Homo sapiens: one gene and its partners. The protein of the gene in region 1 purifies or fractionates together with the protein of each later gene. This does not show direct contact. Each region holds a gene or a part of one and is shown in the gene's direction. Other genes may lie near its edges. The genes, in order: PCDHGB4, PIGA, GRAMD1A, DHRS7, EMILIN2, DAGLB and PTPRD.

Region 1 (4,205 bases):
TCCGGTGAATTTCGGGCGATTTCCGCGGGTGTCGGGGGTCCCGGGAGGAGGCAGTCACAGATCCACCCCTGCAGCCAGCCTCCTAGGCGCCGGCTCCGGCACGCTTCGCCGGTCTGTAGATTTCCTCTTCGATTTCTCCCCAGCTCCCAGCATCTGTGACTTCACTGTTACCCTCCCTATCCCCGCATCACCCAACCGCACCTGTCTGCGGGACTTAGGTGTGCGCGCGGGGCTCATGCGTGTCCTCCCTGCTGGCCACCCCCACGGCCCACACAAGTTGCACGGGCTCGCCACGCCCCGCCAACACGTGCGCGGACGCACGCACGCACTCCTCGCACGTGGGCTTACGCGAATACCAGCTTTCACTGCCACTCGCTCGCGGCCAGATTCACAGGCCTGTTCCGGTCCACTCGCAGCTCCCCTCTGCCGCTCCCTCCGCCGGGCTCAGGAGTACTCGTAGCTGATTGTGCGCGCCTGAGGGTCCCAGATCGCGGCCGCCCAGGACCAGGCGAGGACTCCGGAGCCTCCTCTCACCTCTCCCACCTGCGCCCCGGGCTGGGCCGGGTCGCCTGGGGGGCGGCCTGAGCGAGGCGCGGGGCCAGGAGCGCTGGAGCGACTGCCGCTCTAAGTGCCGGGCGGGCAGGACTCTACGATCCTTGGGCCAGAGGTCCGGATGGTCCCGGGACTCCGTCTCAAGGGTCGGCGACCCCTCAACCCAGAAGCCTCGAGCAGGCGGACAGGCAGAGCTGCCCAGTGGCCGAGGCGCGGCAGGGCTCCGCGTTGGGCGAGTGAGTGAGCCTCTATAGGACAGCAGGACTGGGACTCCAGTGGCACCAGCGGCCCCTTCCTCCCGCAGGAAGTGAAAGCCTCGAGCGCCCTGGCTCTCAACCCCCAGAGATACAGGCTTTTGGCGCCGTCGTGATCACAATGTGCCCAGCGATCTAGGGTCAGAGATTTGGAGGTGACCAAACTATCTGACACTCTAACAAGTCCTGTCTCCTCTGGCAGATGGAAAGCTATAGGCTCTGCCAGATGCCAGGGTGCCCTTATGTGTGAGGAAACTACAATAGTAAAAAACACAAGTTTCTCCAACTCCAGGAGCTTTTATTCAAAATATATCAATGCCTAACTCTGCTCCTAGGACTGTATTTTGAAACACCCCCAGGTGATTTTGATAGCTGATTGAGAGAAACTTACTATATAACTCCTTTGAGAACCTCATCTCATTTGCTCTTCCCACCATTGCTGTTGGCTAGGTACTAACATGCCTCTCTTATAACAGCTTCACAGAGGTCAAGTGACTTGCTCAAGTTCACAGAGCAAGTAAGAGAGATTCTAACCCCTGTCTAACTCCAGAATGTGTGCTTTTAATTTCTTGGCACTTGGAACTTTAAAAGCTTGAGGACAGGAGAGGGGAGTTGCCTCTGCTGGGATTTTGCTTCTGCTGGGATGGGGCAAGGGTGGGGTTCCTTCCCTTTTAGGACCTTACATGTGGGGAAAGTCTTCTGTGGCTCCTCATTTCTGAGCAGTCCCCGCAGCGCAAACTTGGCCAGTTATCCTTTTGGAGATTGAGTTCCCCCAGCTCCGTTTCCTCCTATCACAATCACTGCATTTCCATGTAGATTCTGCTGTGTCTAAGAATACAGTGGCTGAGGGCTGGCCATCCCTGTGCCCTTCTCCATGGCAGCCCCAGAATGGTGCTGGTGACTCCCGATACACCTGGAATGCTAGGTTTCTGGGTTCTGCTCATATCACTGCCACCTGTGAGCCTTGAGTGAGCCACTGGCAGTTCCGGAGCTTCCTTCTCCCTGGAGTAATCTGAGATACTCACACTCTCTGCTTCTGGGAGCAAGTATGAGTATTAATTACCAGCCCACCCCAGAACCAGTGAGGAGGTGGCTCTAGGAGTGCTCCATGAGAGTGTGTGATGGGATAACACACCCCCTGGAAAGACCAGAAGGGACTCAGGAATGAAGTGGCTGGCCAGAGCCCCACACCTTCAGCTAGGTGGGAGATGGCTACACATCAGCCCCTTGGGAGCCCTGGAGACTTAGTTGGCCCTGCTTGGAGGCTGTGGGAGCTGGATCCCTCCCCGCTGCATCCCTTCCATTTTTCTCCGTCTCAGACAGAGCAGCCTTGTTCTCTTCTCCTTAGTCACAGACCATTGTCTGGCACGGAGTTCTAGGGGTGAGAAGTGTCCCGGGACTTGGATGCCCCGCAAAGGCCCAATCTGGCATGACTCCTAAATTAATAATGTATTTAGCTGTGGGAAGAGATTCTTGCAAGCCAAGGGCCCAGAGAAGATGTCCCTGTGAATGTGTCACTGCACAACCTGGCACCAAAAGGGTTACCAAGAACAGCAGCCATCTTGCTGCAGAGGATGCTTTGTTCCCAGCTGAGGAGTTGAATAAATTCATTCTAGGGCTGGTAGAATTCTCATTGAAAAGCCTCCTTTGCCACTTTAGGGGGCTTTGTCTGCACCTCTTCCCCCAGTTCCACAGAAGATGCCTTCAGTCCTTGAATTTTGGCTCAGGAGTTCTGACTCTGGGGGCAGGGAGGAAGGGGCCATTTCTTTAGGAAAGGAGTCTCAGCTTGCTCACTGTGGTCAGATGAAATGTGATTTATCTCTTGGTTTCTGGTACCTCAGACCTCTGAGACCTGAGGTGTATTTTGTCTTTGGAGATGAGTCCACCCCTGCCCCCTCTTAGTCCGTTTTCTTCTCTGTGCCCACTCCCCTCCTTCTCTCCCGGCCCATCCCTAGGGGCTCGGGTGACATTCTAACTTCTCACGGGTACTCAGCCCCTTTCCCTCTGTTTTCTCCACAGCAAGCCCCGCCCAACACGGACTGGCGTTTCTCTCAGGCCCAGAGACCCGGCACCAGCGGGTAGGTGACTGATTCTCCAGCCCACCCTCTTCTCTGCGGCATTTTCTCAGGGATGACGTGGGAGGAGATGGGGGAGGGCCCAGCATTTGCTACAGATGGCTTCTCCCTCAGTTTGAGATCCCAGGGAGGTCTTGGTGTGCGGGGGGCTGGCACACAGACCCCGGAAGGAAGAGGCGACTGCCCTGACTGTTCAGGAAGCTCAATTCACATGCTTGCCCCTTCCCTCCTCGCCACGACCGGCACCTTTTCCTATCCCCTGAGGGCACTGTGGAACCAAAGGATGGTCTTAAGCTGGTCTCTGGGTGAAAGCGAGGCTTTCTATGCCCATGTACTGCCTAACCCCCTCCCCTGAGTTGAGCTGGGCTCCATTATGACCTGGGGCTCAGGCAGAAAAGCATTTGACCGGAGGAGGCGGTCCGCACTCAGCGCCTCCTCCAGAGCCTCCAGAGCCGAGGCTGACTGCAGCCTGGGGAGAGTGGAGGCAGCACAGCTGGAGGTGGAACTGAGGAAGGACTGGGCGGGGCATGGAGCAGGCCCCCTTCTCCGGCCCCTCCTCCCACTGTCCTCTGCCCCTACTTGTCCTGCTCTCTGTCTGTGGGGTCTCCGTGTCTCTGCCCCTTTTTCTTGAGTTTCCGTCTTTGCCACTTTCTCTTACCTCTCAGTCCTTCCCTCAGTCTCTATCTCGCTTTGCAATCTCTGCCTCTCCCTCTCTTCTCCATCTCTGTCTTAGCTTCCGTCTTGATTGCTGCACCTCAGCCTCAGTCCCTTTCATTTGTCTACTTGCATTGATCTGTGCCGCCCACTGTGCCTGCCATGGCATAAGTGCTCAATAAATGTGGAGTGAGTAACTACACGGGACCCTTAGTCTCTTTCTCCTTCTCTATCTCTGCCTCCCTGTCCTTGTCCTGGACCTCTTTTCTGTTTCTCCTTTCACCGTTTCCTAGCGCCTTGTGTTCTTCTATCCCCAGCCTCTATGTTTCTCTGTCTCTCACTATTTCTGCTTTCCTCTCTGTTCTTTGTCTCTCTTTGTCTCTGTCTCTGTATATCTTTCTTTGTCTCTGTCTCTGGTCTCTGTGCCTGTTGTCTTTTTCTGCCTCTTTCTCTGTTACTCTTTCTTTATCTCTCTTTTTCTTTTATCTTGTCTTTTTTCTCTGAGCCTCTGTCTCTGTCTCTCATTTTTTTGTGCTTGTGGGCAAGCCAGCACACACAACCCCCCACCCACCACCCACCAACACCCCGCTCTCTTCCTTCCCTGCCCCTCACACACTGAGCCTTTGATCGCAGCTCTCCACCAGACACCCTCCCATCCAAGCAGCCCCAG
Region 2 (3,989 bases), on another chromosome or scaffold:
CTCAGTCGTTCTGGTGAATTTTTTTAAGTTTAAATATTAATATCTCCAACATTCAACTTTATATTTTCAGGGATCGATTTGCTTAGTGGTATAATACCTGAACTCTGTCAGAAATATCCAGATTTAAATTTCATAATTGGAGGAGAGGGACCAAAGAGAATCATTTTGGAAGAAGTTCGGGAAAGATACCAGCTGCATGACAGGTATTGATGAATTTCATGTTGTCTTGAGGGAGAAGATGTCAATTATCTCTATTTGGTTTTAACTGCATGCGTACCTTAGGTGTGTTGCTTCTCCTGCATGTAATTGATATACATATAATTGATATAAATCTAATGCAAGGACTGTTTTCAAAATTTTTATATAAATAGGAAACCTAGTTAATTCACTATTTTTTCCATTAGCCCAATATTATTTGACTTTGGGGGGCCATTGTTGGAGGCACCATGAAAGGCACAAAAAACAGCTGCTTTAACTGGAAGCGTTTGCAGATTTCCAGGCCATACTGTGTAGTGATTTAAGTAATAGGGCTCAAATCATGTAAATTGCTCTGCACATACAGATTTGGACAAGTCTCTTCCTCAGTAACTTACACAACACAAGGCTTGTACGTGTAAAGCATCAATTTTAATAAAAAGGCCATTTTCCTGTTTACAAATGGCACTTTAACATTAAATTATCAAAGTTTATTAATATTATTACATACAGACTAGTTTTGGAGAAGATAAAGTTTGATATGTGTAACAAAAGTTAGAAATAATGTTCGCTGTATGAGTTTTAACCCAACTGCTTTATAAGGCTGTTTCTATTAGATCAGTGTTTGGTGATACTAATCTTGAGGTGGAGAACATTAGCAGCAATAAGAATTTAAGTGTAATATAAATAGCAGACTTGGTTTATAAATTAAATTTCTTTTGTAGCATGAGTTTTCACTCCTTTCTTCCCCTCTCATTTAAAAAATCAGGGTGCGTCTTTTGGGAGCTTTAGAACACAAGGATGTTAGAAATGTCTTAGTTCAAGGACATATTTTTCTGAATACCTCCCTTACTGAAGCATTCTGCATGGCGATCGTGGAAGCAGCCAGTTGTGGTTTACAGGTAAAAAGCTTTGAGGGCATTCATGGTTGGGATTTCTGTGTATTTTGAAAAATAATGAGACACATTCCATAATAATGTTTTAACTGGTTTTGTTGATCTTCCTGAGGTATGATTATGGTGGAGTATGTGTTCTTTCTTTCTTTTTAAGGTTGTAAGTACCAGAGTTGGTGGAATTCCTGAGGTGCTTCCAGAAAACCTTATTATTTTATGTGAGCCTTCAGTAAAATCTTTGTGTGAAGGATTGGAAAAGGCTATTTTCCAACTGAAGTCAGGGACATTGCCAGCTCCAGAAAACATCCATAACATAGTAAAGACTTTCTACACCTGGAGGAATGTTGCAGAAAGAACTGAAAAGGTATGTCACATGCTGAGAAAAGATTGTGTCTGAACTCTTACTTGATGTTTCACGTACACATTTGCTTTTTCTTACATAGATGTTTACCATTTTTGTTCTATTGCTTAAGTTGATGAAATCTCTTCCAGGTGAAAAGAAACAGATTTTGGTACACACACCGGGCTAAGTGTCTGGTCAAATTATTGCGTTTGACATTTGAAAATAGCAGTAATACAGTCTAGCCCCCTCATTAAACTGGGCATAAAGAAGTTACAAAATTTTCTAAAAGTCACAATGAGTAGAGACAAGACGAGTATTAAATCTACTCTTAGATATTTTCTTGAAGCTGTTGATAATTCTAAAGCAAACATCTCTATTAGGAAATGCATGGTTTTGCTGATTGCAGCAACTTTATAACTTGTGAATATTTAATTCAGGCTACTTCCTAAACCTCTTGTAGCCCTTTTGCTAACTACTGTGATTTTCTCCAGGAAAAGGATTTTTGCATCTTTGGGCTGATTGAGAACATAGTAAGTTAGAATTCAAAATGTACGTGACAAACGTGGGAAAAATCACAAATAAAAAGCAGCAACAGAGAATTTCCAAAAGGACAGGTATAGGAAATAGATTAACACCCTTAGGTAGGAGATTACAGTTGTGGGAAATGCTTCCTGAATTTGAATTAGGGACTGCTTTCATTCTCAGTTTCATCCTTTACGTCCTTTTCATGATGTTCTCTGCCTCATGCCTCTTATTACCATGTAACAAGCTGAACAGAAACAACTCAGCTTCTTAGTATGTAGAAATTGTGAACCAGAAAGATAACCAGGTGGAACATGGAGAAGGTAGTAGTTTAGAGTAATGCTACCAACGTGATATTCAGTGGAGCAATGAGTTTTTAGCCTAGAGTAGATAGCAAGTTGGAGCTGAGGAGAATAGCTCTTTACTGTAAGGCTTTCTTACTTGGTTTGAATGATGAATTCCAGTATATAAGATGAACTCATATGTGAATGGAAGTTCTAAAAACTTATCTCTAAAAATTGTCTTATACATTTTCCATTGAAACATGAGATGTTTGCGACAGTCAAACATTTTTGACTGAAGCATTTTGAGACATTCTGACCTTCTACAAGTCTTGTACTATCTCTCCCATATGAAACATGGAAAGTTGGAGTCTAGTGCTTACCTGTTGGGAGTACATGTCAGAGTCCCCGGGCAGCCTTTTCAGACTCTCTCTACTCCATCTTGATGTCCCCCTGCCTCCCCAACCACTCCCTAGATTCCAGTGTTATCCTTTAGGAGCAGAGATAGAATTGGGGGTATAATTGGCAGGGATATTTGGTCAGACAGGTTATTTTGATGATACCATCCTGATCTCCACTCCCTTTGAGAACCATGGCACTGTTAAGTTGTGACTTGACCTTCTTCATTGACATCGTATAAACCCCAGAAGCCTGAGCCACTGTAGGTAATAAGTTAACAGGGAAAGAACTGTGGTGACGGTTTGTCAGCATATAGTAAAGGGGCTAATTGGGATTTTTTTGGTAACCACATTTTTCTTTTGGTTAAAGTAATAGTACAGCATCTGTATTTTTTTTAATTCTATGGTGATTTATAATACACTTTTAGAAAAAAGTAAATCCTTGCCTATAATGGATTGTCATCGCTAACATTCTCTTCATAATAGTAAATTGTTATTTTATCACTTAAAACTATAAGTAGATTAATTGACCTGAAATAAAGCTGGACAAAAAAGTCAGTTTGTAGTTACTCTTTTAACCCTATGACATTTTAATTCATTTCAACTCCTCCTTCTTAGTTTAACTGTGCTATTTAGGAAATCGATCATGAAATTAATTTGGAGTTCATGCTGTAAACATACTTCTTCAATTGCAATTCACCAGTCTCAGCATAATTCTCAACATAATTCTGATTAAAATGTTTGTATTCAGAATGTCCTCAGGGTAAAAGAGCTCGATGAAAACATGCCGTACCTTTCAAGGGCTGTTGACCTGTACAACATGCACTGCATGTTATAACTTCCTTGAGTTCAAAAGGAGACGGTTTAAAGGTCTAATATATGAGACTAAGCACAAGTAATACTCAAATTACAAAATATGAATGTTGGCCCATTTGATGTGTTCTGAACAAGTATGTTTAAAGATCTTCGTTTTTTGATATTTTAGAGCTTAGTACTTAGCAGTGTTTTAAAAAGCAAGCCACCTACTTGCTCAGCAAAAAACGTTATTTCATTTGCCAGCATTTGACCTATACTATCTACTGAAATTTCCCCCATCTCTTTATCTTCTTTTATTTGAAATCCATGAAATGCTTCTGCATGTCCTCACCATCCATGCTCAGCAACATGTACAGCCTCATGTGGCTGTTGAAAGAGGAGGCTCTGTGTTCCCAGAAGTATGCTAGATTGTAGCTCTCTGCTTGTGGTTGATGTCTGCCAGATGCCGGTGAGAGCATCTCAGCTTAGTCAAGGAATCTTCAAAGGCAAATCCTGCTTCAGTACTGCTGAAGTCACTGCTGAATTAAATATTGACCCTACA
Region 3 (4,205 bases), on another chromosome or scaffold:
AAAAAAGGTGAACCAGATGTGGCTCATGGTGAAGACTTGACTTTACCTGGAGTGAGGTGCAACCAGGCCAGGGCTCTGAGCCAGGAGGGCGCTGACCTGACTCAGGTGGTCCCAGGCTCCTTCTGGCTCCCTCTGTTCTGGTGGGAACAGACTGCAAAGACAGGTACAGGAGCAGGGAGGCCAGGGAGGAGGCTGCTGGGACATCCAGGCTGGAGGGGACGGAGGCTGAATCAGGGTGAGGAAATGGAGGGGGAAGAGTTTAGATTCTGGAGAGATTTTGCAGGTTTAGCTGACAGGATTTGCTGAGAGATTGGATGTGGCGGTGAGGGAAAGAGAGCTCAAGGAATATCCCGAGGCATTTGGCCCAAATCACTACAACTTCGGAGCTGCCCTTGACCCAGATGGGGGCGGCAGGGAGGAATGGGTTTGGGGAAAGACCAGGAGGTCAGTTTGGGACTCAGCTGTCTATGTTGAGCTGAGCCCATGTGGAGCTGGGGTGCAGCAGCCGAATGGAAGAGGTTCAGGGGCATGGTCTGGTTAAGACGTCAGTCTGTGAGTAGACAGGGCTCAGGCCGCCGGGAGCGTTGCCCAGGTAGTGGGCATGGGTGGAGAAGGACCGAGGGCTGAGTTGGCTGGCATTTGGGCTGGGCGGGTGGTGTATGGGGTATCCAGGGAAGCCATGGGGGGTAGGGAACCCATCTGTTTTGTCTGTGAGTGACAAGGGGCCCTCTCTGAATTAGGGGAAGGAAAAAACTCAGCTTGTGGGACGGGGCAGCCAGGGCTGGAGTCAGACCCTTACCTCCTTCCCCTGATCTCCCAACCCCAGAGTGTCTTCTGAGATCCGCTACCGAAAGCAGCCGTGGAGCCTGGTGAAGTCGCTCATTGAGAAGAACTCGTGGAGCGGCATTGAAGACTATTTCCACCATCTGGGTAGGGACAGAAGGCCGGCTGGGGCGTGGGTTGGGGGATGGCCTGGCCAGGTATGGACATCCAGAGCCCCCTCTCTTTTACGCAGAGCGAGAGCTCGCCAAGGCTGAGAAGCTGTCTCTGGAGGAAGGCGGGAAGGATGCCCGGGGCTTGCTATCCGGCCTGCGGCGGCGGAAGCGGCCCCTGAGCTGGCGGGCTCACGGGGACGGGCCCCAGCACCCAGATCCTGACCCCTGTGCCCGGGCCGGCATTCACACCTCGGGTACGTTCCGTTGGGGCCGGGTTGGGGTAGGCGGAGGATCGGGGGTCCTGGACTGGGCCATCTGACTCCAAGCTGCTCTCCTGCAGGCTCCCTCAGCTCCCGCTTCTCCGAACCATCTGTGGACCAGGGCCCCGGGGCAGGCATCCCCAGTGCCCTGGTTCTCATCAGCATTGTGTGAGTAAGAGACAGGAGCAGTGGCCACACAGGCCTGAACCTGCCTCCTGGCTGTGTGACCTTGGGCAAGTGTGTGGCCTCTTTGAGCTCTCTGCTTAAGTGGGAGCGTGGGTTTGCTCACAGCAAGGATTAGACAAGGCAATGTTTGGGATGTGCCGGTTTGTCATGGAGAAGCCTTCCCTGCTAGAACAGCAGAGCCGGGGGGGGCTATGGGAGATCAGAGGGGCCTGACCTCACCCAAGGATCAAGGGGGGCTTTCTGGAGGAGCAGGCACACAAAGATTCTGGAATTAGGTGCACAGGGAGAGGTGTGCCTAACAAGTGAGGTCATTTATGGACATTATGTTCTCTGTGCCCACTCCTAAGCTGGGCGATGCTGAGGACACCGCAGTGACCTTGAGGAAAAGATAGACCTCACACCAGACCAGAGTGATCCGGGCTGGGATGGGGGAGGTATGGGCAGAGGGGTTGGGGCTGGGAGTGGGGAAGCCCTGGGAGGCCAGCGGCGGCTTCCTCCCAGGCCAGAGGGGGCAGTCAGGATGGGCGTCCTGAGAGAGTGGAGACCGCGTAGGCTAAGGGCTTGGGCAGGGAGAACCCACACTCCTGCCCAGAAGCCTGCAGGAGTTGGCGGGCAGGACGCTGGGAGGAAACAGAAGCAGGATCCCGGGGTTGAGCAGACCCTGCGAGGTGAGGGTCAGGCCAGCTACATGCTCAGCCTCTGAGCCTCAGCTCTCAGCTCTCATCCAGTGAGGGGGCGTGGTGCTCTCAGCCAAGAGCTGCCCCGGGTGAGGAGGGCTGGGGGTGTCGGGGGCAGGCCAGGCGGCGCTCATCTCTCTGTCTCCCCTCACTGCTGCTGCTGCAGGATCTGTGTGAGGTAGGGTCCCGAGTCCTCCCCCTGCCCTCCCCTCCCTGCACCCCACCCCTGCTGCAGCCTCTTCTCCCCACCCCATGCCCCCCAGCTCCCCCAGGGAGGTGGCCTGGCATGGCAGTCAAGGGTATGGGCATCAGACAGACCTGGGTTTGAACACTGACTTCCCTGCTATGGACTGTGCAACCCTAGGCATGTCTCTCATCCTCTCTGAGCCTAATTCTCCTCCTCTGCAATGGGGGATAGAGGTGTCCCTACAAGATGTAGTTGTTTGGGGGTGTTCAGAGCATCTAGACCCCAGGAATCCTGACCTCTGACCCCTGTCCCCAGCCTTATCATCCTCATCGCCCTCAACGTCCTGCTCTTCTACCGCCTCTGGTCCCTGGAAAGGACAGCCCACACCTTTGAGTCCTGGCACAGCCTGGCCCTGGCCAAGGGGTGAGTGGGTAGCCTGGGGAAATGGGGGGGCTTGGGCACATCGGGGGAGGCCAAGGCCCTGCTCAGGCCTGGCATCCCCACAGCAAGTTCCCCCAGACGGCCACAGAGTGGGCCGAGATCCTGGCGCTGCAGAAGCAATTCCACAGCGTGGAGGTGCACAAGTGGAGGCAGATCCTGCGGGCCTCCGTGGAGCTCCTGGATGAGGTAGGAGGCGCCGCTCGGGCAGGGCTCGGGGCTGCGGGGCTGCAGGGTCCTGTGTTGAAACCCCACCGTGCGGCAGGCACTTCCCCTCTCCGGATCTCAGTGTCCTCCTCTGTAAAATGAGGAAGCCGCTCAGAGTCCCCACCCCACAGCATTGCAGGGGAAAGCATGGAAGCATGGATGGAAGACAGAACTGATTGGCTCACGTCCTGGAGAAAAGTCCAGAGGCGTCTCACATTAGGCACGGCCGGGTTTGGTCACTCAATGGCAGTAAGAGTCAGTCTCTCGTGCCCACTCTGCCCTGTGCCCATCTCCAGGGTTGGCTTCATTGGAGGCCACCCTTTTCCCCCCACAGGGGACCACGGAGCTTACTCTCATTGGCTGCTGGGGTCCCAGGCCTACCCCTGACACATCACAACAGCCAGGGCAGGCCACGTGTGGTCCCTCTACCCGCTACCCCACTCTGGGGTAACTAAGGGGTCACATGGTCTGAAGGGGAGAGACTCTCCAAAGGACCTGAGGTCTCATCTCCAAAACGGAGTGGACCCAGACACCCAGTGTAGTTCAGGGACAATGTCTACTCAGACAACCAGGTTCCAATTCCGGTGTGTGACCTCGTGCAAGTGATTTTGCCATGGTGGCCGTGGACTCCTCTGTGCACAGGATAATGACTGATGCTACCTCAAAGACTGTTGTGAGGATGAGACAAGTTGACATTGGGAGTGGTGCCAGGCCTGCAGGAAACACTGGATGTGGGCTGGCTGTCCTGAGTTTGAGCCTAGTGCCAGGGACAAAGCAGATGCCCAATAAATGTGATGTCATCACACGACAATTCCCTCAGGCCCCAGTAGACTCAGGCCAGCAGTTGCGGTGGGTCAGAGCAAGTGTCAGGCCAGCAGTTGCGGTGGGTCAGAGCAAGTGTCAGGCCAGCAGTTGTGGTGGGTCAGAGCAAGTGTTAGGCACTCGGGGAAGGTGTCGAGGGGGAAAGCGGATGGGAAACAGAGTCTGGCATTGCCTGCATTTCCAAGGCCATCAGAGCTGAAGTTGTGGGTGACGGTGAAAATCTTGTCTCATTGGACCCTTCCATATCAGAAGGCTCATCTTTAGGGGTCTCATTGCCCCCCGAAATCAAGCTTGGGAGAGGCTCACACTGGAAAGGGCGGGGCAGGATGGGGTGGGGAGGAGATGAAGGCTGAGGCCCCATCACTCATAGAGAGGGTAGGCAGGGCCCCCCATCCTGCGTTATTTTATTTTATTCTTTTGAGACAGGATCTCATTCTGTTGCCCAGGCTGGAGTGCAGTGGCACGATCATGGCTCATCGCTGCCTCGAACTCC
Region 4 (3,095 bases), on another chromosome or scaffold:
ATATAAAGAAAAATAAATAAAAAATATTTTATCCCCATGCATATATTTTGGTTTACTATAAATTATTACTAGTCTTGGAGAGAGAAGTTTCTTACAAGGTAAAATCAAATCAAAGATTGCCATGTTTTTCTTCTATACATATTGTTTGACCAGTGTGTGTGTCAAAATGCTCTTTCCCTACTGTTTCTCCCCACCAACTCCTACCCATCCTACCAGTCTCAACTCCCATGTCACCTCCTTGGAATGGTACCTGGCCTTCCCTCCCACTTCTCCCCAGGACCAAGTGCACCTCAGCCCCTATGCTTTCCTGTCAAAGCACTTACTGTGTTGTTAAAACAGATGCATGCAGTTTTACCTCATTCCCGAAGTACTCAGCACATCTAAGATGTGCCTATTCCCCTGTCTAAGGAAATATGCTGATTATCATTCTTTCAGCACTCATTCTTTATAGCAATTAGTCAGGGAATACTATTAACCATTTCTGAGAAATTGTGACCCTCAAAAGAATTTAATTTATAGACAGTACAGGAAATGTAATGAAGTAAACCAAAAATTATAGATGATTATGCAGCAAAAGATTATTGCTGAGGATGGTTTTTACTGTTAGCCTTTGATATACTTTGTTACCACCTTCTTTTAGAAATTAATCAATGGGGATTGACAGATAAAAAAAGAATTATAAAACAAGATCATACTATATATACCTGCAAAAATTTAAGCAATCCACTAATTGTTAGACATTTAATTTATTCCAACTCTTTGCAGGACAGTGAAAATGAATTAGGGGGTAAAAAGTTACAAACACAACAAAATGCTTAAGAGACATAAAAGGTTATCAGACTGGGTCATGACACACTAAAATGTCCAGAGTGTGAAAAATCAAAAAGGAGCTTTTCGTTTTCTACCAAGTAGTAATGTGGAACAGTTTGCTTTGGGCCAGATCCCTTATGAGTGTTTTGGTATTGTTGGGACTTGGTAGTGTGGGTAGAAGCTCTAAAGGTAGAGTTTCATCAAAGAGTATACCTGAGTTTTAAATATGGAGGACAGCTGATGCAGTAGCTTTGTGCCCAGTGATGGAAAGAGTTGAGAGGGACAGGCCACCTTACTACAGAGGAAGCACAGCCTCCTGGCAGAGCATGCAGCCTGGTGCTAGGCTACCTGGGTTCAAATCCCAGCTCTGCCCCATGCCCTTAAAGCAAGTTACTTCTCTATCACTCAGTCTCCCCATCTATTAATATAAGATGGAGATTAATGATGATAATAGTGCCCAGTCACAGGATTGTTATGGGAATTACATGAATTTAATATATGAAAAGCACTTAAAACACAACTTGGAGTGTTCTAAGTGTTAGCTATTGTGCTTTTTCCCCCTTCTCAGCTTGAGTTAGATATAGCAGGATATTCAGCTTCCTTAATGATCAAAGATTTTCTTTATAATTGACACATAAAAATTATATATATTTAAGGTATACATTGTGATGATCTAATATACACTGTAAAATGATTACCACAATCAAGCTAATTAATACATGTCACCCAGTTACCTTTTTTTGTGTGTGGTGAGAACACTTAAAATCTTCTTAGCAAATTTCAAATATGCTATACAGTATTATTAACTGTAGTCACCATGCGGTATATTAGATCCTTAGAATCTGTAAATTATAATAACATAAGTTATTTATCTTATAACTGAAAATATCTACCATTTTTTTTCTTTGAGACAGGGTCTCGCCCTGTCACCCAGGCTGGAGTCTGCAGTGGCGTGATCATGGCTCACTCCCATCTCTACCTCCCAGGCTCAAGCAATCCTCCCACCCCAGCCTCCTGAGTAGCTGAGACTATAGGCGCACACCACCATGCCTGGCTAGGTTTTGTAGTTTTTGTAGAGACGGGTTTTTGCCACGTTGCCCAGGCTAGTCTCAAACTCCTGGGCTCAGGCGATCCACCTACCTTGGCCTCCCAAAGTGTTGGGATCATAGGTGTGAGCCACTGTGCCTGGCCAAAATGTGTACCTTTTGACCAAGATCTCCCCATTTCCTCCATCTTCTGGCTCCTGGCAACCATCATTCTACTCTGCTTTTGAGTATGACTTTTTAGATTCCACAGAAGTGAAATCACATAGTACTTGTTTTTCTGTATCTTGCTTATATCACTTAGCATTAACGTCCATTCATTATCCATGTTTTCACAAATGCCAGGAGTTCCATTGTTTTATGGCTGAAAAATATTCCATTGTGGAATAATATTCCATATATATATATACACACACAGACACACACACACATTTTCTTTATCCATTCATTCACTAATGGACACTTAGGTTGTTTCCATATCTTGGCTATTATGAATAATGCTAAAATGAACATGGGAGTGTAGGTATCACTTCAAGGTACTGATTTCACTTCCTTTAGATTTATACCCTTAAGTGGAATTGCTGGATCAGATGGTAATTCTATTTTTAATTTTTTGAGGAATTTCCGTATTTTCCATAATGTCTGTACTGGTTCACATTCTCAATTTAAATAATAGGGCAGAGAAAGAATATATTATAGAAGTGATTTTTTTTTCAAAGGGGAAAGAGGGACCAGGGACTAGAGAATTTCAGTCCCACTGTAGTAGTACTTCCAGAAATGTCCATATGAAGGATATTTTGTTTTGTTTAGAGAATATCTAACTGTAAAATATAAACATCATTTAGCAAATCTCGCATTTTTTTTACATCTAGGTTTTTCTAAAAAAATGACAGCCTTTTTCTTCCTACCACCATCTTTGAAATATTGCTTATTATATAGTCTTACTACTTTGTCACTCTTTATTATAAGCTGGGCATTCTGTCATTTCTCAAAGCAATTTTTAGGACATAATACCTCATTCTTTATAGTCTGTACTCTTCCTCTCTCCCACTATTTTATATTTTATATATATGTATATATATAAATTTTCTTATTGATAAGCGTCTAAGTTAAGAAAATGCTAGCATAGCTTATTTCAAGCTAATAGTACTTGTTAACTAGAATTTGCTTCTTTAGTCTGTATGTCTGGAACTTTGTTTTTATGAATCTTTATTATTTTTAGGGATCAAGAACAGTGGCTAC
Region 5 (4,205 bases), on another chromosome or scaffold:
GTGTTCAGAGAAGCACCCACAGTGGAAGTCAGGGAGGGATTCTCAGGAGAGAGCCCTGAGCTGAGCCCTCAGTGTAGGTATTTACCGAGCAGAGTACAGAGGCTGATGGGGTGAGGAATAAGGTGAGATGAGAGAAGCTTCCAGGAGGAGGTGTTACTGGATCTGATTGAGGGATGGGTGGGATTCAGAAAGCAGGAGGGGAGGACATTGTGGATTAGCTATTTATTGCTTTATAACAACCCATTCCAAATCTTGCTGGCTTAAAACAACAAAGATGTATTAGTTTCCATTATTCTGTAGGTCAGGAACCCCGGCAGGGCTTGGCTCAGCGGTTCTTCTGCTCTATGTGGCATCAGCTTGAGTCGCCCACTCAGCTGCATTCAGCTTGCGGTTGACTGGAAGGTCTGTGAAGACTCAGTCATATGTCTGGTGCCTCGGTGCTCCTCCACCTGGCCCCTCTCTCCATGTGGCCAACCTGGGCTTCCTCACAGCATGGCGGTGTCAAGTAGTCAGACTATGGCGACTGTCAAGGGAAAGTGGAAGCTGCTGGGCCTCCCACAGGCTAGCCCAGAGCTGGAGTGGCATCACTGCCACATTCTATTGTCAAAGCAGGTCTGCTCTTGAAGGGTGACGTGGCTGGTATGTTTGGGGAGGGAAGGGGGATTAATGGTGGTCATGATATCTACCACAGTGAGCACAGATCCAGAGGTGAAGATGTGTGATGGTTTTGGACCAGTAAGCAGATCGCCAGACCGGGAACACACACTGTGGTGTTTCTACTCAGCCTGTTGCCCTCTTCACAGATCCTGTTTCCTTTGGAAGCATCACTGAGGTGAGGCTGAATTATCCAAGAAGCAGCCAACAGGGGAGAAGAAGGGCCTTCAGCTGATGCTTAAATAGATCTAAGTCTCTTTTATATCCTTCTGTTAAGGGCATATATATATATAGCATATGTATATATTGCATATATATAATGAATAAATAAATATATATAATTGTTTTTGAGATGGAGTCTCCCTTTGTTGCTGGGGCTGGAGTGCAGTGGCGTGATCTTGGCTCACTGCAACCTCCGCCTCCCGGGTTCAAGCGATTCTCCTGCCTCAGCCTCCCAAGTAGCTGGGATTACAGGTGTCTGCCACCACATCCAGCTAATTTTTGTATTTTTAGTAGAGACAAGGTTTCACCATGTTAGTCAGGCTGGTCTCGAACTCCTGACCTCAGGTGATCCACCCATCTCAGCCTCCCAAAGTGCTGGGATTACAAGCATGAGACATTGCACCCGGTCAGATATATATATATTTGAGACAGGATCTTGCTCTGTCACCCAGGCTAGAGTACAGTGGTGCAATCACAGCTAACTGCAGCCTCAACTTTCCTAGGTTCAGGTGATCCTCCCACCTCAGCCACCCAGGTAGCTAGTACTACTGGCACGTGCCATCGCACCCAGCTAATTTTTTGTTATTTATTTATTTATTTTTTTAGAGATGGGTTTCACCATGTTGCCCAGGCTGGTCTCAAACTCTTGGACTCCAGTGATTCGCCTGCCTCAGCCTGGGATTCAGGCATGTGCTGTAATTACATGTGCTGGGAATTACGGGCATGAGCCAGTGCACCTGGACAATTTTTTTTTTGGAGATGGGGGTCGGGAGACAAAAGGTCCACAAGTCTGGGCACAGTGGCTTACGCCTGTAATCCCAGCACTTTGCGAGGCTCAGACGGGTGTATCGCTTGAGCCCAAGAGTTCGAGACCAGCCTGGGCAACACAGGGAGTCCCTGTCCCTACAAAAAATACAAAAAAATATATACTTTTGAGAAAATGGTCCAGGCAGAGGGAACAGCATTCTCAAAGGCTATGAGGAAGTTCTTTTGAAAAACCCAGAATAGTGGTATGGCCAAGCGTATAAGCAAGGCAGAAGGTCATCAGCAATGAGGTCAAAGCGAGGGTAGGAATGAGATCAGGCAGGCTTTCTAGGCTGTGATAAAGGAGTTGGATTTTAAGTACCGTGAGAAACTATTGAAGGATTTTGAGCTGGGGAGTGATTACTTCCGTTGAAATCCCTGCTCATCCATGCTTGTAAACAGTGGAGGATTAACTAATGTCCTGGACTTAGTAATCACTCAGGAAAATTACCTATTACTTAAACCCTCCATACCCTAGAATGGATGTTTAATCTATTCATGACTGAACTTTTCTCCCTTTCTCTACCTATAAACCCCCAGGCCTCCAGCCTTGGAAGAGAGAGGGCCTGTAAACACAGCAGACACAGGGTGAAGGGCCCTGGTGGCTCCGGTGATGCTGTAGGTGGCCACAGGTTTTTTTGTTTTTCTTGCTTTCCCTTTTTCTTGTTTTTAAAATTAGCGTTCAAATAGACAGTATAAAAAGCCTTAGAAATGGCTGGGCGCGGTGGCTCATGCCTGTAATCCCAACACTTTGGGAGGCCAAGGCAGCAGGATCACTTGAGCACAGGCGTTCAAGACCAGCCTGGGCAACACAGTGAGATCCTGTCTGTACAAATTAAACATTAGCTGGGTGTGGTGATGTGCACCTGTGATTCCACCTACTTGAGAGGCTGAGGCAGGAGGACCCCTTGAGCCCAGGAGTCTGAGGCTGCAGTGAGCTATGATCACACCACTGCACTCCAGCCTGAGCAGTACAGCATAATCCTGTCTCTTTAAAAAAAAAAAAAAAGCCTAGAGATCTCCCTTTTCAGCATTCACAGCTTCATGTATCTCGTGTATCGATAGTTTTTTTGAGCAGAATCTCATCACTTATGAACAAATTAGGTTATAAATGGAAAGGAGGCTCGAGGCCCTTTATTCCCTATGCAGTGTAGCCACGGAGTTGAGCCCTCCTTCCCAGATGGACTCGCTCCCATTTTCACAGGTGCGGGGAGCATCAGGCCTTCACACTCTCTCAGCAGGCATCCTCTTTTGTTCCTTTTTCCCAAGTTGCCCAGCCTTACCCCCACTCGAGTCTGAGTGACCCATGAGTGATTCATAGGGAATTACTCACAGGTATCCCCACAAGTGGGGGTGTGTCCTGGCCACAGGGTCTGCCTCCCAGGCACTGGGTGACCAGCAGAGGCTGACTCCCTGCCTGGGACCCAGGACTAGCCCGGCCTGCAGCCCAGTGGCAGCAGCATGTGGAGAATGGGGCAGCCCGCCCTCCCCAGCTGGCTTTAGCTTCCCCTGGCCCCACACACAGGTTGAGCCTCAGCTGGACCCTGCCTTCCCACTGTTCCTCTCCCGGTAGAGGAAGGAAGGGGTGCTGGTGGCGAGCAGGAAGGGAAGGCAGAGGGACGTAGCTGTGTGCAGGGGACTTCTCTTTCCAGATGTCACGCTTCCAAGTAGAGACAGATGTCTCTTAGATCTCAGCACACTAGAGATAATGGCATCACTTCCTTTTTCTGCTCTCCCACCCCTTTCTGCTCATGTCTCTGAGTAATTTTCATCATAGCGTTTCTTTTAGGAGTGCTGCAGGTTTAAGCGTACTATTTTTATTGAGTTAAGCTATAAGAATGAAAAAGCACAGCCTTGTCAAATAACTATTTAACCAGAAAGCCTGGCCAGGGCACTGCCTGATGCCAACATTCTGACCCCTTTGCCCCAACTCAAAATCAGCTGAGTTTGGGGAGAGTTTAGGCCCAAGGTAGCATGATGGACTTAGAGTTTTATAAACATATAAAGGCTCAATAAATTGCTTATATTCAGGCCATAGGGAACTCCTGACAACTCGCCCCCTTTATCCTGTAGGCACCAGGTTTCTACGATGCCCTTTGGTTCGTGTAAACCGCAGCTGCTCTACTGCATCTTAGCCTTGAACTTAGAGCTGCAGTGTTCGGAGAATGGAGCTTTCCCAGAGCTGCATGCATAAATGCCTCTGGGATCTTTAAAAAAAACAAAAACAAAAAACTCCTCGGCTCACTCAGGAGATCGCTGCTCAGCAGCAGGGATGAGGTGAGGGCCAGGAATTTGTAATTAAATTTATAACTAAAAAAAACCGCTAGCTCTAGTCCTGGAAATTGAAGGCTACCCCAGAGGCAGAGGGATCTACCCACCCCAGGTAAGCTGTGCCCAAAAAGAAAGAGGAGGTGGGGGGGAGGGAGGACACAGAATGAACCACTGACTGACACTGCGCCACCAATAGAAGTCAGCTTTGTGTGAGCCCACTTACGGACTCGATTCTGTTCCAGTTTTTGAGGTCT
Region 6 (4,205 bases), on another chromosome or scaffold:
GCGACGATAACTCACTGCAGCCTGAACTTCATGTGTTCCAGCGACCCTCCCACCTCAGCCTCCCGAGTAGCTGGACTATAGGCGCTCGCCACCAAGCCCCGTTAATTTTTTTTTTTTTAGTAGAGTCAGGATCCAGGCTGGTCTTGTATTTTTATTTTAGTAGAGACTATGTCGCCCAGGCTGGTCTTGAACTCCTGGGCTCAAGTGTCCTCCTGCCTTGGCCTCCCTAAGTGCTGGGATTACAAGCGTGCGCCACCACACCTGGCACCTGCTTCACGTCAGGCGCTGTGCAAGGTGCCAGGAGCACAGCCATGCACGATGGACGTGGCTGCTGATTCTGCAGTCTCAGATCCCAGGAGAGACTCACACATCAGTGCACAGCGTCATCCCATCTTTGAGTCTCTGCTGGGCCTGCCTTGTCTGAGGATTAACGGCCACCTTCTTTGTCTGTGTTTTTAGGGTATTTCTCAAGCTGCCAGATACGTTTACCAACGACTCATCAACGACGGGATTTTGAGCCAAGCCTTCAGCATTGCTCCTGTGAGATCTTAGTTAACGTTTCTTTCCTTGTCCTCTTTGGAGCTGTTGTTTTTACCCTTCACCTCATTCTGCTGTCTGTCCTCTAGGAGTACCGGCTGGTCATAGTGGGCCACAGCCTCGGGGGCGGGGCGGCCGCCCTGCTGGCCACCATGCTCAGAGCCGCCTACCCGCAGGTCAGGTGCTACGCCTTCTCCCCACCCCGGGGGCTGTGGAGGTGAGCCTTTGTTTTCCTGCTCTAACAGCTTGCTACTTACAAGTCATGTGGTCAAGACTCATCTTTTTTTTCTTTTATTTTCCTGAGATGAAGTCTTGCTCTGTCGCCCAGGCTGGAGTGCAGTGGCGTGATCTCGGCTCACTGCAAGCTCCACCTCCCAGGTTCAGGCGGTTCTTCTGCCTCAGCCTCCCGAGTTGCTGGGACTACAGACACCCGCCAGCATGCCGGCTAATTTTTGTATTTTTAGTAGTGGTGGGGTTTCACCATGTTGGCCAGGCTGGTCTTGATCTCCTGACCTCAAGTGATCTGCCCGCCTCGGCCTCCCAAAGTGCAGGGATTACAGGCGTGAGCCACCGCACCCAGCTGAGGTTTGTGTTTTGAAGCGCTATTTCACAGAAGAAAGTCTGTCTAGCCTTTCTTAGACCTATGTGACCATACCTGTAATTTCCTCAATGATTTAATTCTAAGAGTCTTTTTTCAAACAGACTTTATTTTTTAGAGCAGTTTTAGGCTGACAGCAAAACTGAGCAGCAGATTGTAGGGATCTCTCATACCCTCCCTCCCCACAAGCAAGCACAACCTCCCCCATTCTCACAGCCCTGGCAGAGGGGTCCGGTTGTTGACATCCATGCGCCTGGTAGGCACATCGCCCAGAGCCCGTAGTATGCTGAGCACTCCCTCCGCCCTCTCGGGGGGCATATGCCCTGGGTGGGGACACATGCATAATGCACATGTTTAAAGACATTTTTATGAGTTTGAAAATTACTTTTTTTTTTTTTTTTGAGACGGAGTCTTGCTCTGTCGCCCAGGCTGGAGTGCAGTGGCGTGATCTCGGCTCACTGCAACCTCCGTCTCCCAGCTTCAAGCGATTCTCCTGCCTCAGCCTCCCGAGTAGCTGGGACTACAGGCGCCCGCCACCACACCCGGCTAATTTTTTGTATTTTTTTAGTAGAGACGGGTTTCACCGTGTTAGCCAGGATGGTCTCGATCTCCTGTCTTCTGACCTCATGATCCGCCACCTTGGCCTCCCAAAATGGTGGGATTACAGGCATGAGCCACCACGCCTGGCTGAAAAGTTTATATTTTTTTTTGCTGATTCCAGCATACTGACTGTTCTGTGTAACCTTTTGCCATGATTATAAAGGAAAATTATACCACTTTATTTCATTAAAATGAAATAAAGGCCAGGCGTGGTGGCTCATGCCTGTAATCCCGGCCCTTTGGGATGATTAAAAAGTATGTACGTAAAGAACAAAAAGAGCTTTTCTTCGCACACTTGGTTTCTTTGACATATAGTTCACACAGGAAAAAACAGGAGAATGTATAAGTGCTTAAATCTTTCCCTCAATAAAGAAGTGTTCAGAATAATGAATTGTTGCCTAGCAGTCTACAGAGGCAGACATTAATTTTTTAAAACTTAAATTTCAGTCGTCTGTTTTCTTGCTGTCTTTTTTTTTTTTTTAATTGACACAGAGTGTCACTCAGTCTCCCCAGCTGGAGTGCAGCAGCACAGTCATGGCTTGCTGTAGCCTCTGCCTCCTGTGCTCAGGTGATCTTCCGGCCTCAGCCTCCCAAGTAGCTGGGACCATAGGCGCACACCACCACATCCAGCTAATTTTTGTAAGGAACAGGGTCTTGCTATGTTGCCCAGGCTGGTCTTGAACTCCTGGGCTCAAGTGATCCTCCTGCCTCACCCTCCCAAAGTGCTAGGATTAAAGGTGTTGAGCACTGTGCCTGGCCTCATTTTCTTGCTTTCTCAAGAATATTCTCAAGTTTTGGGCTTGAAATGAGCAAGTATTTTTTTTTTCCATCGTCCATATCTGGAATCAACCGTTTCTCCAAGGAATATTGGTTCCTTTTAGCAGGAAATGGTATTTCTGAACTGAAATCGGGGCACTGGTAGTTCTCATTACCACAGGGCTGGTCATAATTTCCAGGCCTTTTCATTGGAAAGAGGTAGGAAAGGCTTTTGTTACACCAAAGAGAAAATGTAACTGTAGTGTATAGTGATACTTAAACATCAGGAGGCTGGGCATGTTGGGTCACACCTGTAACCCCAGCGCTTTGGGAGGCTGAGGCAGGAGGATCACTTGAGCCCAGGAGATCGAGACCAGCCTGGGCAACATAGACCCGGTTCCTTACAAAAATTAGCTGGACGTGGTGACGTGTGCCTGTGGTCCCAGCTACCCGGGAGGCTGAGGCAGTAGGATTGCCTGAACCCAGGATGAAGAGGTTGCCGTGAGCCGAGATCGTGCCACTGCACTCCAGTCTGGGTGACAGAGCTACACTCCGTCTCAAAAGAAAAAAAAAAAAAATTGGCCGGGTGTGGTGGCTCACACCTGTAATCCCAGCACTTTGGGAGGCCAAGGCCGGCAGATCATGAGGTCAGGAGATCAAGACCATCCTGGCTAACACGGTGAAACCCTATCTCTACTAAAAATACAAAAAATTAGCTGGGCGTGGTGGTGGGCGCCTGTAGTCCCAGCTGCTTGGGAGGCTGAGGCAGGAGAATGGCGTGAACCTGGGAGATGGAGGTTGCAGTGAGCTGAGATTGTGCCGCTGCACTCCAGCCTGGGAGACAGAGCGAGACTCCATCTCAAAAACAAAAAAGTCCTTTCTGTCACCCCAGAGGTAGAATGTGGTGGTTTTGACTGGTGTTTCCATTATGTCCATGGCTGGAAGGAAGCGTGTCTGTGTTCCTCTCCTCCTGTTGATGAAAGCCTGCACCTTTTCCCTGCTCTTCTGTCTCTGGTCGTGGCTGTTCACTTTCACCGCATGTCCTGAGATGACCCCGCAGTGGCACACACAGTCCTCCTCCTTCTCCCAGCTGTGCGGGACGCACTATTATGTGACTCGTTGTTGGGAGCTGAAGGCAGTTCTGTGGATGGGTGTTTGGAGGCTCCAGCCTCTGCCGGTGCAGGTTCTGCCGCAGTGAATCGCCTGTTGCCTCTGCCCCTTCATTTTTGCTGGGGCATCTTTTTTTTTTTTTTTTCTTTTGAGATGGAGTCTCGCTCTGTCGCCCAGGCTGGAGTGCAGTGGCGCGATCTCAGTTCACTGCCAGCTCCGCCTCCCGGGTTCATGCCATTCTCCTACCTCAGCCTCCTGAGTAGCTGGGACTACAGGCGCCCACCACCACGCCTGGCTAATTTTTTGTATTTTTAGTAGAGACGGGCTTTTACCGTGTTAGCCAGGATGGTTTCAATCTCCTGACCTTGTGATCCGCCTGCCTCGGCCTCCCAAAGTGCTGGGATTACAGGCGTGAGCCACTGCACCCGGCCTCCAGTGCATCTTTGATGGAGTCTTCCAAGCGCGGTTTCTGGGTCAAAGGACAGATCCATGTGCTTGGTCCGCCTTGGTGTCCAGTTTGCGGTTTTAGCTGCGGGGCGTCTCTGTTGAACACATATTGTGGCTTTAGTAGGATCTGGCCAGTGAGTTGCCATAACTGACGTTT
Region 7 (4,205 bases), on another chromosome or scaffold:
ATGATTAAATACAGAATTCATGAACTTTTGAAATAATTCATTTTTAAGTTTGCAAATATTTACGTAATCAGCTACAGAAGTCTCAATGCATTCATCATATTAGAACTTCTGTGAATTATAGATTTTACAAACTGTCCAAAGTTATAGTTCTCAAATGTAGTTTGTGTTAAAAAGGGGACTCCTTCAGCAGCTACACGAACAGAGAACAAAGCCAGGCAAGCATTGTGTTCACATGCATTTTTTACTACTACCCACATGTAACATGACATACGTATCATAGGAATACTTCCATTCCCTTGTCTGGTTAAATAGTCCTTGCTCAGTTAAGATAAAGGCCTAGATATAGCTTCTTTATACCACATAGAAAATAACCCAAACCTCATATTTTATCTCAAGTTCCAGGAAAGGTTAATTTAGAGCACAGAAACAGAAAAAAAAAAAAAGAAAATAAAGAAGAAGTAATGGAGTGTTTCCTGTTTCTAAAGTGGAACCAGTGTAGGCCACTTACGAAAAACCTGTATTTAGAATTTAGGAAAAATACTCACATAAGCTAGCATCCTTGGGATTTTTTCCCAATAATTGGCCTCAAATCTTTATAATCAAAGTTAGAAATTCTACTCAGTGGAAAAGGATGGAGGGGGTAGAGAATGGTAGAAGGAGTGACTCATTAATCTCACGCTAGAGACAGAATTATTTCATTTCTTATTCTTCACCCAAATGGTTATCAGGATGAAAGATAAATCTTTCACCTTGGGGTTAGGTGGTCATCAGATTTCTAGGGAAGTCTGGCTCACACTTTTATCTTGTCACTTTTCCGTTTTTTTGCTGTTGATAACAATATAACCATCTGGAACCATTGAGAAGGACAGTTTATTCATGAACCATAGTAATTCCTGTTTGATTTTGCTACAGAAATCAAGGATAGGACAATAATTCAGGTACCATATTCACATTATGCACTACTCTTAGAAGTTGCACCCTCTTCTATTTTCAAACTACTTGCAGAGGTTGCACCCTCTTCTATTTTCAAGCTTGTAAATGTTGTCAAGTCAGAATCACTAGTCAGGATTATGCAATATGCATAATACGGCAGCATAAATCATATAATATTATCTAGTCCCAAATATGTATTGAGTCTCCTATGTGTCAAGGAGTGCTGAGTAAAACAGCCATGTGCTAGCAATTTGAAACTACCCAATTGTGACCATCTTATGGTCTTATAAAATGTATCCACGTTATCATAAAATTTTTGATTCCATAGAGAAAAAGGAATCTCTTCCCTAAGGCATTTCTCCCTTTATATCACAGAAAAATTTCCAGATACGTATCTACACTTACCTTATTGTCCTTCTCCTTTGCTGTCATCCTGAGTCACAGCTATTGCTTTTAGAACCTAGGTGGAAGCTGTGTTGCTTATTAGGCAGTTGCAGTCTATGCTGTTTTCCACTGGAATTTCTTGGCACCCTTCATCATCTTCTCACTCCAGTGCTAATTCCTTATGTGTGTTCAACTCTCCAAAGTTCTAGAAAGGCAGTAAAGCATGATAAAAATACGCCGTACTATCCTAATATTGACACAATATAAAAACACAAATAAATCGCCAGACCACTGCAGCAGTTTACAGTCTATGCACCAGTCCCTTATATTTCCAAATTCATAGAATACAATAGCAGTTACAGTCAAGACTCATGTTATTTTCAGCTATAACCAAAGCATAATAGCAGAAGTGCTTTGGTTTTCTCAGGAAAGAGAATAGACAGAGAAAAATGAGGAAATTCTTCCTGTACCTTTTGAGGTGAGATATTCTTATAAGAGGACTTATAATGTGTACTTTGGATCAAATAACCAAAGAGGAAGGCAAAAGTGCAATTTAAATGTTTAGAAATGTAGTGGGATTGTTAGATACTGCTGAAGTTAATAAGTTACCCTAAGTTCACGTCTTGATTTCTCTTAAAAAAAATCATGGAAACATCTATGACTTAAGTTTGAAGAGTTTCCTTTTTTATTCCCCCTGAAAACCTTTATCAAAGTACTACTCAGCAGGAACTTTTGAAAAACAGTGCCAAGATGATATATTGTTTCACCTTCAAAAAACTTTTATACCTGTAAATTTTAAAGCTAAATTATGTGCATCACAAGTATAGAAAAAATATTTCCCATTTGTAATTTCCTATTTTATTATATAATACATTCAATTAGTTCTCAATTAACACTTATCTATGGTACCTGTTTCAATGGACCATGGCTTATAATTTTAGTGTGTAAGAATTCCAGTGGCAACTCCTCTGAATAGATGTATTTATTGTGTGTCATATGTGCTAGCCATTTGTTTTCTCCTAGGAAACATATGTGGTTAGCTCTGAAAGAATAGCTTAGCCTCATCATTTATACCTGTGTGGTTGCAAGCAACAAGGCTTTCTTGCAGTATAATTGTCTCAGGGATTAAGTCTAGTGCTTTATTCTCCCATTTTCCTGCCCCTCAGGAGGATATTCCTTCCTTTTTATTTTTATTTTTTTTAGGGGCTTGAAGTCTTCCTATTTTCCCATACACCTCTCCCACTTGGAAAACATGCCAGGATTTAATAAAACAAATTACACATTCACTAAGACACATTCATACTGGCTTTTTGAAGTATTACATCAGTGCATTCTGAGAGATATTCTGATGGTATTATAGATACAGATATAGATAGCTATTTTAAGAGAAAGGAATTTCAGGCCATATTCAAGAATGCTTTGGTGTGAATCAAATGCTGCTGAATACAGAGATGAAGAAGCTAGGTCAGAATATGGTCAGAATAGGTCAGAATATATGGTCCTCACCATGGCAGGCTTTTCTTTCCTCCATTACTCATCAGTTCTCTTCCTATTTCTGTTTCTATTGCCAAGTTCCCCTCTTCTGCCTATGTTTTTTAACTTCATAGGGAGCTATGGTGACACACAGGAATGACTATGTTGGCCTTATGAACAATTAAAGGGTGTGTTATTAACATTATTAAATAGATTATACTATTGTCTGTATTGTGCATTTCTCTTACAACTCATTCATCCTTCTCATCCATATAATAATCTGCAGCTCATATGTAGTTTATCACTTCTTGTAGTGGGATTAAAAGAAGTATGTAATTACACTTTTTTGTTTCTAAATCAGAGATGGTTTCAAGGTCACTATGATCTTTTTATTCTTCTTGGTTTCTTGAATTTTATCTCTTATATACTGCCTCATGAGTTCTTGAGAAATCTTCAGATAGAAGGTAATAATAATAGCCAACACTTATTGACTGCTTCATATCTGCCAGTCACTATTTTAAGTGCTTTCCATGCATTAACTTATTTATACCCATATCATTCCTGTGAAGTTGGTACAATCATTATCTTTGATTTATAAATGAGAAAACTAAAGCACATAGAGGTTAAGTTGCCTAAAGTTAATAACGTATTTTCCCAGATGTGCATATTAGTACGGAAGGTAAATGCTACAGTTATCTAGATTCTGTACATGAAAAGCAGAAAAAGTGTGAGATTGTGGATCTGCTTTTATAAGACAAATTCTTTCAAATGAAGTGAGCACAAGTTATCATAAGTAAATGATCACAAATGTGAATGCAGGAGGACAGATACTGTAAAAGTGCTGCCCAGGGGAACAAAGAAGCAGAGGGCAAATCATATCAAGGAAAACTAACTCCAGTGTATCTCCTCCCAAAGTTGAGAGTTAAGCGTGGCACAAATGCTTCTGAGTGTATTTTTTTCTTCCTTTGGGATTTCCAATCTGTCAGAAAGAGAACCTGCTGTGCTCTCTGCCTTTCCCTGGGGTGGCCCTTCAAGCTCGGGTCCCTTTTCCTGGGAAGATTAATTCATTCAGTTCCTACCACTCTAACCTCTACAGCCTCTTGGCGTCAGATTTTATGGTATATCAGCTCCTTAAACACCTTGTTGTACTTGATAATCCATGACCAAAAGCCACAATTTTTGAACCAACCAAGAGTTTTGAGTTAGTTCACCTCATATGAGAGGCATGGTGGAATAGCAACGTGGAGGTAGGGAAGATAAGCTCATGGTGGAGTGGAGTGACATTTAGGATCAACAGGGTCCCATCTGCCAGTTACTATAATTCAGAGTATTTTAATGCATGCCCCACATAATAATGAAATGAGACTGTTGTGATTAACTGATGCAAGATAAAATGTAAGGATACTGATTATAAT

Evidence for each region.
Region 2: the proteins of PCDHGB4 (region 1) and PIGA purify together in Homo sapiens (affinity purification with mass spectrometry; 2 studies listed by BioGRID and IntAct, with this or other methods). This does not show direct contact.
Region 3: the proteins of PCDHGB4 (region 1) and GRAMD1A purify together in Homo sapiens (affinity purification with mass spectrometry; 2 studies listed by BioGRID and IntAct, with this or other methods). This does not show direct contact.
Region 4: the proteins of PCDHGB4 (region 1) and DHRS7 purify together in Homo sapiens (affinity purification with mass spectrometry; 2 studies listed by BioGRID and IntAct, with this or other methods). This does not show direct contact.
Region 5: the proteins of PCDHGB4 (region 1) and EMILIN2 purify together in Homo sapiens (affinity purification with mass spectrometry; 2 studies listed by BioGRID and IntAct, with this or other methods). This does not show direct contact.
Region 6: the proteins of PCDHGB4 (region 1) and DAGLB purify together in Homo sapiens (affinity purification with mass spectrometry; 2 studies listed by BioGRID and IntAct, with this or other methods). This does not show direct contact.
Region 7: the proteins of PCDHGB4 (region 1) and PTPRD purify together in Homo sapiens (affinity purification with mass spectrometry; 2 studies listed by BioGRID and IntAct, with this or other methods). This does not show direct contact.

What each region holds. Positions count from the first base shown.
Region 1 is NC_000005.10:141,491,982-141,496,186, forward strand, and holds part of PCDHGB4 (protocadherin gamma-B4 isoform 1 precursor), read left to right. Parts: intron 1-2,825; coding exon 2,826-2,884; intron 2,885-4,205. Other genes in the region: PCDHGA1 (protocadherin gamma-A1 isoform 1 precursor), read left to right, coding at 2,826-2,884; PCDHGA2 (protocadherin gamma-A2 isoform 1 precursor), read left to right, coding at 2,826-2,884; PCDHGA3 (protocadherin gamma-A3 isoform 1 precursor), read left to right, coding at 2,826-2,884; PCDHGB1 (protocadherin gamma-B1 isoform 1 precursor), read left to right, coding at 2,826-2,884; PCDHGA4 (protocadherin gamma-A4 isoform 1 precursor), read left to right, coding at 2,826-2,884; PCDHGB2 (protocadherin gamma-B2 isoform 1 precursor), read left to right, coding at 2,826-2,884; PCDHGA5 (protocadherin gamma-A5 isoform 1 precursor), read left to right, coding at 2,826-2,884; PCDHGB3 (protocadherin gamma-B3 isoform 1 precursor), read left to right, coding at 2,826-2,884; PCDHGA6 (protocadherin gamma-A6 isoform 1 precursor), read left to right, coding at 2,826-2,884; PCDHGA7 (protocadherin gamma-A7 isoform 1 precursor), read left to right, coding at 2,826-2,884; and 11 more. UniProt on the Homo sapiens protein: Potential calcium-dependent cell-adhesion protein. May be involved in the establishment and maintenance of specific neuronal connections in the brain.
Region 2 is NC_000023.11:15,322,128-15,326,116, reverse strand, and holds part of PIGA (phosphatidylinositol N-acetylglucosaminyltransferase subunit A), read left to right. Parts: intron 1-70; coding exon 71-203; intron 204-964; coding exon 965-1,097; intron 1,098-1,245; coding exon 1,246-1,452; intron 1,453-3,989. UniProt on the Homo sapiens protein: Catalytic subunit of the glycosylphosphatidylinositol-N-acetylglucosaminyltransferase (GPI-GnT) complex that catalyzes the transfer of N-acetylglucosamine from UDP-N-acetylglucosamine to phosphatidylinositol and participates in the first step of GPI biosynthesis.
Region 3 is NC_000019.10:35,020,676-35,024,880, forward strand, and holds part of GRAMD1A (protein Aster-A), read left to right. Parts: intron 1-826; coding exon 827-930; intron 931-1,015; coding exon 1,016-1,189; intron 1,190-1,275; coding exon 1,276-1,363; intron 1,364-2,224; coding exon 2,225-2,236; intron 2,237-2,560; coding exon 2,561-2,668; intron 2,669-2,751; coding exon 2,752-2,872; intron 2,873-3,021; coding exon of another isoform or gene 3,022-3,066; exon of another isoform or gene 3,067-3,110; intron 3,111-4,205. UniProt on the Homo sapiens protein: Cholesterol transporter that mediates non-vesicular transport of cholesterol from the plasma membrane (PM) to the endoplasmic reticulum (ER).
Region 4 is NC_000014.9:60,145,857-60,148,951, reverse strand, and holds part of DHRS7 (dehydrogenase/reductase SDR family member 7 isoform 1 precursor), read left to right. Parts: intron 1-730; exon of another isoform or gene 731-3,095. UniProt on the Homo sapiens protein: NADPH-dependent oxidoreductase which catalyzes the reduction of a variety of compounds bearing carbonyl groups including steroids, retinoids and xenobiotics.
Region 5 is NC_000018.10:2,895,191-2,899,395, forward strand, and holds part of EMILIN2 (EMILIN-2 precursor), read left to right. Parts: intron 1-691; coding exon of another isoform or gene 692-831; exon of another isoform or gene 832-1,000; intron 1,001-4,205. UniProt on the Homo sapiens protein: May be responsible for anchoring smooth muscle cells to elastic fibers, and may be involved not only in the formation of the elastic fiber, but also in the processes that regulate vessel assembly. Has cell adhesive capacity.
Region 6 is NC_000007.14:6,413,176-6,417,380, reverse strand, and holds part of DAGLB (diacylglycerol lipase-beta), read left to right. Parts: intron 1-459; coding exon 460-540; intron 541-626; coding exon 627-754; intron 755-4,205.
Region 7 is NC_000009.12:10,602,772-10,606,976, reverse strand, and holds part of PTPRD (receptor-type tyrosine-protein phosphatase delta isoform 1 precursor), read left to right. Parts: intron 1-4,205.